Linked DNA regions of Homo sapiens. The protein of the gene in region 1 purifies or fractionates together with the protein of each later gene. This does not show direct contact. Each region holds a gene or a part of one and is shown on either strand. Other genes may lie near its edges.

Region 1 (3,500 bases):
GCTGAGGGCTGCTGGGCATGACAACTTAAGGTCAAACTTCACTCAATGCTTCTCAGCTTCTGTAAGAGGGATGGATGAGACAGCCCCAGAAATCAATATACCTACCATCCTTCCACCAAAACTTATGAAGCATCTACTCTGTGCCAGCTCTGCACAAGGCACTGTGGCCACAGAGAAAGAAGAATGTCTGAGAAGCTTCTGCAGGCAGAGACCACTGGAGAAGATACCAGTGAAATCTAGGATAGGTCTAACTGCTTCAGCGTGCCTGTTATTCCTCATGCCTCGCTCCCCAACCAGCCTCCAGGTTCCCTTCTCTGCAACAAAGAGGTTCCTCCTGTGGACTTCACCTGGTACCACCCTCCCCTCCCGCCCCCCAGCTGGCTCCTGCCTGGGAGATCAATGGGTAAAGGGAAAGAACAATCTTCAGGCATTTCTCCCCTACTTCCTCCCTGCTTTGATGTATCTGGCAGCAGCTGCTTCTCTGCACAGCTCAAGTGCCAATGAGGTGGCCTCTCTTCTAAGGCTCCAGCCCTTCCTGGGCCCCAGTGACATCAGTGCCTCCCCCTTGCCCTTCCTAAGTGGGAACAGCACTTTGCTGCTGCTGGTCCCAAGTACCTCAATATCCTTTATTGGTTCCCTTAATCTTATATGTTATAAATAGCTTCTTCATTACATTCTCTTCAGAATCCCACCTTCCATTTCCTGCCAAGACCTCACAGATACAGATACCACCTCTAGTCCAAGTCAATTCCGTATCTCCAGCCCAGAAAAACCCCCAAGCTTTTCAGCAACCTGCTGGATGGTTCCTTTTGGATTCAAACTGCATGCATCTAAACCCAACCCACCATCATCACCCTCCCACAATTGTAAAAGATCCCAAGGCCTTCCAGCTACCTTGATGCCTTCCTCCTCTCCTTCCGCGAACATTACCAAGCTCTCTGAGTCTTCCTTCCCTTCAATTCACACTCTAACATATTTGGAGAACCACTGAATGGCCACCTAATTGGTCTTCCTGCCATCACACCCAGCCTGTGGCTTATAAAACATACATGGGGGATGTCTCCCCTGTTCAGGAACCTTACGCAGCACACTATTGTCCACAGAACACATTCTGAACCAAAGCCCCCTACAATGTAGTCTTCCCATAGCTGACTTTAATCTGCCCTAGCCCGCCCAACCAGTATGAACCCTATGTATGCACCCTCCCCTCCCCACTTCTGCCCCACCCATTCTTCAAGGCTCGCTGAGGTCTGTAGTGCTCTTGATGCCCTGCACTCTCACAGGCTATCTAGCCACGCGTGTGGCAAGGACTCTCGTGCTGCCACACATTGCCTCTGTTTGGTCTTGCCTGTGAGTCTGCATAGCCCTGACGAGAAGGGGTCCCGACATCCCCCACAGGGACGAATGCACAGGACATGCTTGTTAGATATGAGTAACATCCATTTCTGGTTTCAGAGCTGAGCCCCTGGCCTGGTGGAAGGGGCTAACCATGGCGGGGGCCAGGCAAAATGCACATTGATCCTGCAGCTCCATGAGAGCTGGAAAGGAGCTCCCAATAAACCAGAAGCTACTTCAGGGCCCCACAGAAGGAAGGAAGGAATCAGGGTGACATTTCCAGAGGGGCCATGAGTTCACCCTCACCTGCTGCTCCCATCATGCCCCCAAACCTGACATTATTGCACCAACCACCTCCCCCGACACCGTGCCCTGCCAGCCTCCTCTCCAATCAGGGAGCACAGGTGGGAGGAGACATGAGAACACAGAGGTGGCAAGGGGTCCCTGTGGAGGAGGGGATGCTCACCTTGAGGTTCCCATCAGCTGTGATTCGCAGGCGGTTGCAGGTCCCACAGAAATGCTCAGACATGGATGTGATGAAGCTGATCTGGCCTTGGAAGCCAGGGATTTTAAAGGCCTGGGCAGGGGAGAGTGGGAGCAAAAGGGCAGTGGAGGGGATGGGCTACTGAGCCCAGTTTCTCACTCCATGACATCAGAACCTCCACTCCTCAACCCTCTCCCAGAGGACCCCACGTGAAGCTCCACCCAAGGCCCTCAGGTGATAGAAGACTCTGGTAGGATGGATGACCCATGGGTTGACCTATGCCTGGCTTGCCCTAGATAAAAGCTGCTAAGGCAGGGACCTGTGGGCAGCATGTTTAGAAAAGTCTGCGTGGAAGCGGGATGAGCACCCCTCTCTGCCACTTCCTGGAGTGTGTCCTCTGACATGTTACTGAGCCCCCCACCCTAGCCGAGCCCACATCTTCATCCATGAAACAGGGAGGTGGTTGTGATAGCACTGATGCTTCCTGCTTAAATGGTACCATCCCACATCACAGCATCCCCACCACAGTGCAGCTCCCTGCTAGCTCTCCATCCTAGGGTGGAGGTACGACCTTCCTCCAGGCCTGCCCCACACCCTCCTGCTCCCTAACCTTGGCTGTGCTGGATTCCTCCTCTGGCACCTTCTCCAGCTCTGGCCACTGCTGCCGGACAGTGTCTAGCATCTCCTTATAGCTGACCATCTTCTTGAAGTTCCACTTGTTGCCTGTATTCGGGATGGGGGAAGGCAAGGGGAGCTTCTGAATCACAGTTGAAGGGGCCCCGGGGTCTTTGAGTCCATCCCCTGCCACAGCATAGCAATCAGTTCTCCAGCCTCTTGGAAGGGAGGGACGGGGGCTCTGCCTAAAACTGGTGGATTGAATCACATCCACAGCGGGCTCCGAGAAGCCACCAACAGCCCATCATAATCCTAGACTCACTGCCCCTGAGGTCAGCCATACCCAGTGGGTGAGCCACACTATGCGACCTGCAGGCCCAACCCCTTCTTCCCTCCCTCAACCCATCCCTGGTCACTGACCATCAAAGGGCATATACTCTATGAAGCGCACATCCAGGGGGAGGCCCTCAGTCAAGGCCGCAAAGTCCAGGAGTTCATCCTCGTTAAGGCCTCGCATCACCACACAGTTCACCTGGCCGGGGAACAATGGGACCATGAGGGCTGTGCCCCCTGCATTCTTTTGTGGAGATGACCCTTGGGGGCCTGGCACTCACTGAGGCCTTCCACTCAGGGACCCATTCCTTGCTTCTCCCACTCAGTTCTCTAAGTTACGGGATTCCTTGGGGTCACTGATTTTCTCGTTTCTCTCAAGGGTCGGCAGGGCTGGACCAGCAGGGAGAGAAGAGGTGGAAGGGTGCACGTACTTCAGCCATGCTGGCCAGAGCTGAGGGCTCTCAAGTGGGCCAAGGGGCGGTGAGGGGAAGGCCAGGGCAGTGTGGAGGGAAGTCGGGAATCTACGGCAGGGGCACGGCCTCACCTTCACAGGGTTGTAGCCCAGCTCGATGGCCTTGTGGATGCCCTCCATGACCTTGTGGAAGCCTGGGAGGGAGAAACAAGGATCCAGGAACTTCTGTCCTCTCTCCTCTTCCCCCACACCCCCACAGAAAAGCACCAGAGCCCATCTAGTCTGGAGATTGGCAAACGTTTTCTAAAACAGGCCAGAGTA
Region 2 (3,095 bases), on another chromosome or scaffold:
TAACTTAGGCCAGATTAAACAGAAAGCAACCTCTGCCACAAAGCATCTCCCTAGGAAGAGATCACAACATAAACTAAAGCACTAACTCTCAAGATCCTGTTGTCACGATGATTCAGTTCATATATTATCTCTGACTTTTCTGAGATGATCTAATAAGTTCTAAGCAAAAATAAATATTTAATCTTTGATTAAATAACATTATTACTTAGTCTAGGGTGACTGGGTTACGTAGGATGGCTTGAAAGAGATAAGCCTTGGTGGACATCTTAAAAATTTAACTGAAGTAAAGAGCAACTGGTTTAGTTCCCTTCCCCTGGAGTGTTGTGGTGTTGAGAAGACAAAACTTTGGGAACAATCACAGGGGGGCTAGATAGACAATGCAAAATTGCTGCTGGAGAGACTGAGTGAGTAGATGTTAAATAACTAAGTGCGTGCTGGATGAATAATGTTCTGGATCCAAGAAAGACATACACAGGTAAAAAATGAATTCATGCCTTTTGTGTTGTTCAAAACTTGTACTTTATTTTTCTCAAATATTTTTACTTATGCTTTTTGTCATTATCCACAGTGTTTTTTTTTTAAAGCCTGAGCCACTTTGTGGTTTTAGCCTCAATATAATAATCATCCCCTTACTCTTAGACTAATTCCTTTTCCCCTGTCACTTTGCCTGTATACTCTGTAAAAATGAGGACCTTAGAAAATCAACATTTCCTGTGAACTTGAGAGACTATACAAGCAGTGCCCAAATCAGTAGGATTAGGCAGGTAAAACCAGTTGGATAGCAGATATATTATGATCTGTTGGACAAAGGTATAGTTGTGTGCATGTCTACAAGGTCATCGTGATTCGCCATTAGCTTAAGGATCATGTAGGTTGACCAGGGTGAGGTAGGACTATCCACAGGATTGTGTAAATTGTGGTAGGGGATGCAGTATACAATATTCATGAATTAAACACTTAGCTAACTGCTTTCCTGAAAATGGTCTGTGTTCTAAAAGACAAAGATCTAGGTTTTTTGCTGTTTTTTACTTTAACTTATGAAGATTCAAGTCACTAATATGTTACTTGCTCTGGTTTAAAATGAAAGCAACTGGCTATGGTAAGGTAGAGAAGACAGCTGAATTGTATCAGAATATTTAAGACTTTTAAATTAAGTTCTGAGTTACCTCACCTTATAAAAATATATGTCAATATACTAAATACCCAACAAAGATCCAGGATGTGGGATATTTAAAAATACATTTCTCTTGTATCAGCACCAAAAATACCAGTTTCTGTACAACCCGTGTCAAGTTTTTAAGTATACACACATTAAAATTATTTCTGATAAAAAAATCACAAACTCCACAGAAATAATTAAAGATATATGCAAATTACTTTCAAATACATTTTGACATCAAAGTCAGGCAATTCACTTGGAAGAATGTTATAATGAATGTCACTGAATTTTTGTAGTAAGATGTTTGACGTCAACTTTGATTATGGGAATACATCTCACACACAGGAGGCACTGGTATTTAGAAACTTAGGAAAATTACTAGAATTGTTAAGACTGAGGTGAAGAATTTGTACAGCCTTCCACAATTTCAAAGAGGTAGTGATAGATACTTGTCCTCCTGGCAATATCAAATGCAGTTTCTTCCAAGTTGTTTTTCAGCCCTGGTTTGACGTAACGGTTCATCAGGAGGAGTTCTAGGGTATCCTTGCTGTCTCTGTTCCCAGCAGCAAGATGCAAGGGGGTCAAGAGGCCTTTTGTTTGGGCATTGATATCTGCATCATGCTGCAGTAAGAAAGAAGCCACTCTGGTATTATTCCACTTACAAGCACTGTGCAGGGGCGTCCAGCCATCCACAGTCACTGCATGAACATCGGCCCCCTGTGCAATGAGCTCCTGAACAATATCTAAGTGTCCACTGTAGGCTGCTCGATGAAGAGGGGTATACTCATCTTCATCCCTAGTGTTCACGTGAGTGGCCTTTTCAGAAAGGAGTCTCCGCACTGTGGTAAGCTGAGAAGAAAAAAAAGAAATCTTTCAACTCAACTCAAACCAAAACAATAACTAAAACAAAATTGTCTTGTGGTGTTAGATTTAATTAAGTTGAATAAAAACTTACTTGTTAGTAGATGACTTTAAAATGAAAATAATTTAAGATCTCTTTTTGGGGAGGAGAGGACTACTGATTTAAGAATGAACAAGTTAGTGTTAACTACACTTTGTTGCTTCTAAGAATGAGATTCTCTGAATATCAAACCATACATTTACTCCTGGTCCAACTAAGGTTTATTGCATAAAAGCTTCAGTCCAATGAATAACATAGGCTTTCTGTTTAATATTTTATGTGTTATCTGTGAAGAAAACATAACTGCTTGATTTTTCTGTAGGATTATCACACCAATATACACACTGTATGAAACTTTTAAAAATAAAACTTTTAACAGAAGAATAAAGTATTAATAAGGAATTCTAGGGATTCAAGAGCTCAATTCCTTCTCAATACAACCTTAGAAACAACCTTTTAGGTTGTAATTTTCAGTTTGTTCTATGGGCCTCTGGTTAAATGTGGCATGCTCTTGGGTTAAAAAGCTATTTAAAATGCGAGACCCTTTTAGTTATTAGTTTACTAACACAGACATGGGGAAACTTAGTAAAATGAGGTGGAAGTGGCCAAGCAGAGGGAATAGGCTTTTGATGTTCATTCCACTTCGATGATCCTGGGCAAATTAATATTCCTGAATCTCAATTTCTTACTCTATAAAAGAGAAGAATATTACTTATAGGGATACATGATGATTAAATAAAATAATGTAATAAGGTACCTGGTATAGTTAGTTTTTAATAAATGTTAGTTTCCATCCTCTCTTTCCTAAATGATCCTAATGACTTTATATAAATGATTTTAAAATATAGATGATTGCTTGCTATCTTTATAGATAATTATCCTTAAACCCCCAAATAATACCTAGCATGACACTTTGCAGCTTAATATGTGCTTTCATGTACATTGTCTCATTTGGTCCTCACAATCAAGAGATAGGTATGATGGCCATAACAGTAAAGGCAGGTCTTCTGGCTTGAACCCAGTGCTTTTCCTACT

The links.
Region 2: the proteins of MOCS1 (region 1) and ANKRD49 purify together in Homo sapiens (affinity purification with mass spectrometry; one large-scale study listed by BioGRID and IntAct). This does not show direct contact.

What each region holds. Positions count from the first base shown.
Region 1 is NC_000006.12:39,910,463-39,913,962, forward strand, and holds part of MOCS1 (molybdenum cofactor biosynthesis protein 1), read right to left. Parts: intron 3,374-3,500; coding exon 3,312-3,373; intron 2,967-3,311; coding exon 2,855-2,966; intron 2,543-2,854; coding exon 2,430-2,542; intron 1,913-2,429; coding exon 1,802-1,912; intron 1-1,801. UniProt on the Homo sapiens protein: Isoform MOCS1A and isoform MOCS1B probably form a complex that catalyzes the conversion of 5'-GTP to cyclic pyranopterin monophosphate (cPMP).
Region 2 is NC_000011.10:94,496,984-94,500,078, reverse strand, and holds the end of ANKRD49 (ankyrin repeat domain-containing protein 49), read right to left. Parts: intron 2,009-3,095; coding exon 1,547-2,008; 3' UTR 501-1,546; downstream 1-500. UniProt on the Homo sapiens protein: Induces HBG1 expression. May have a role in spermatogenesis where it promotes autophagy in response to serum starvation, via the NF-kappaB pathway.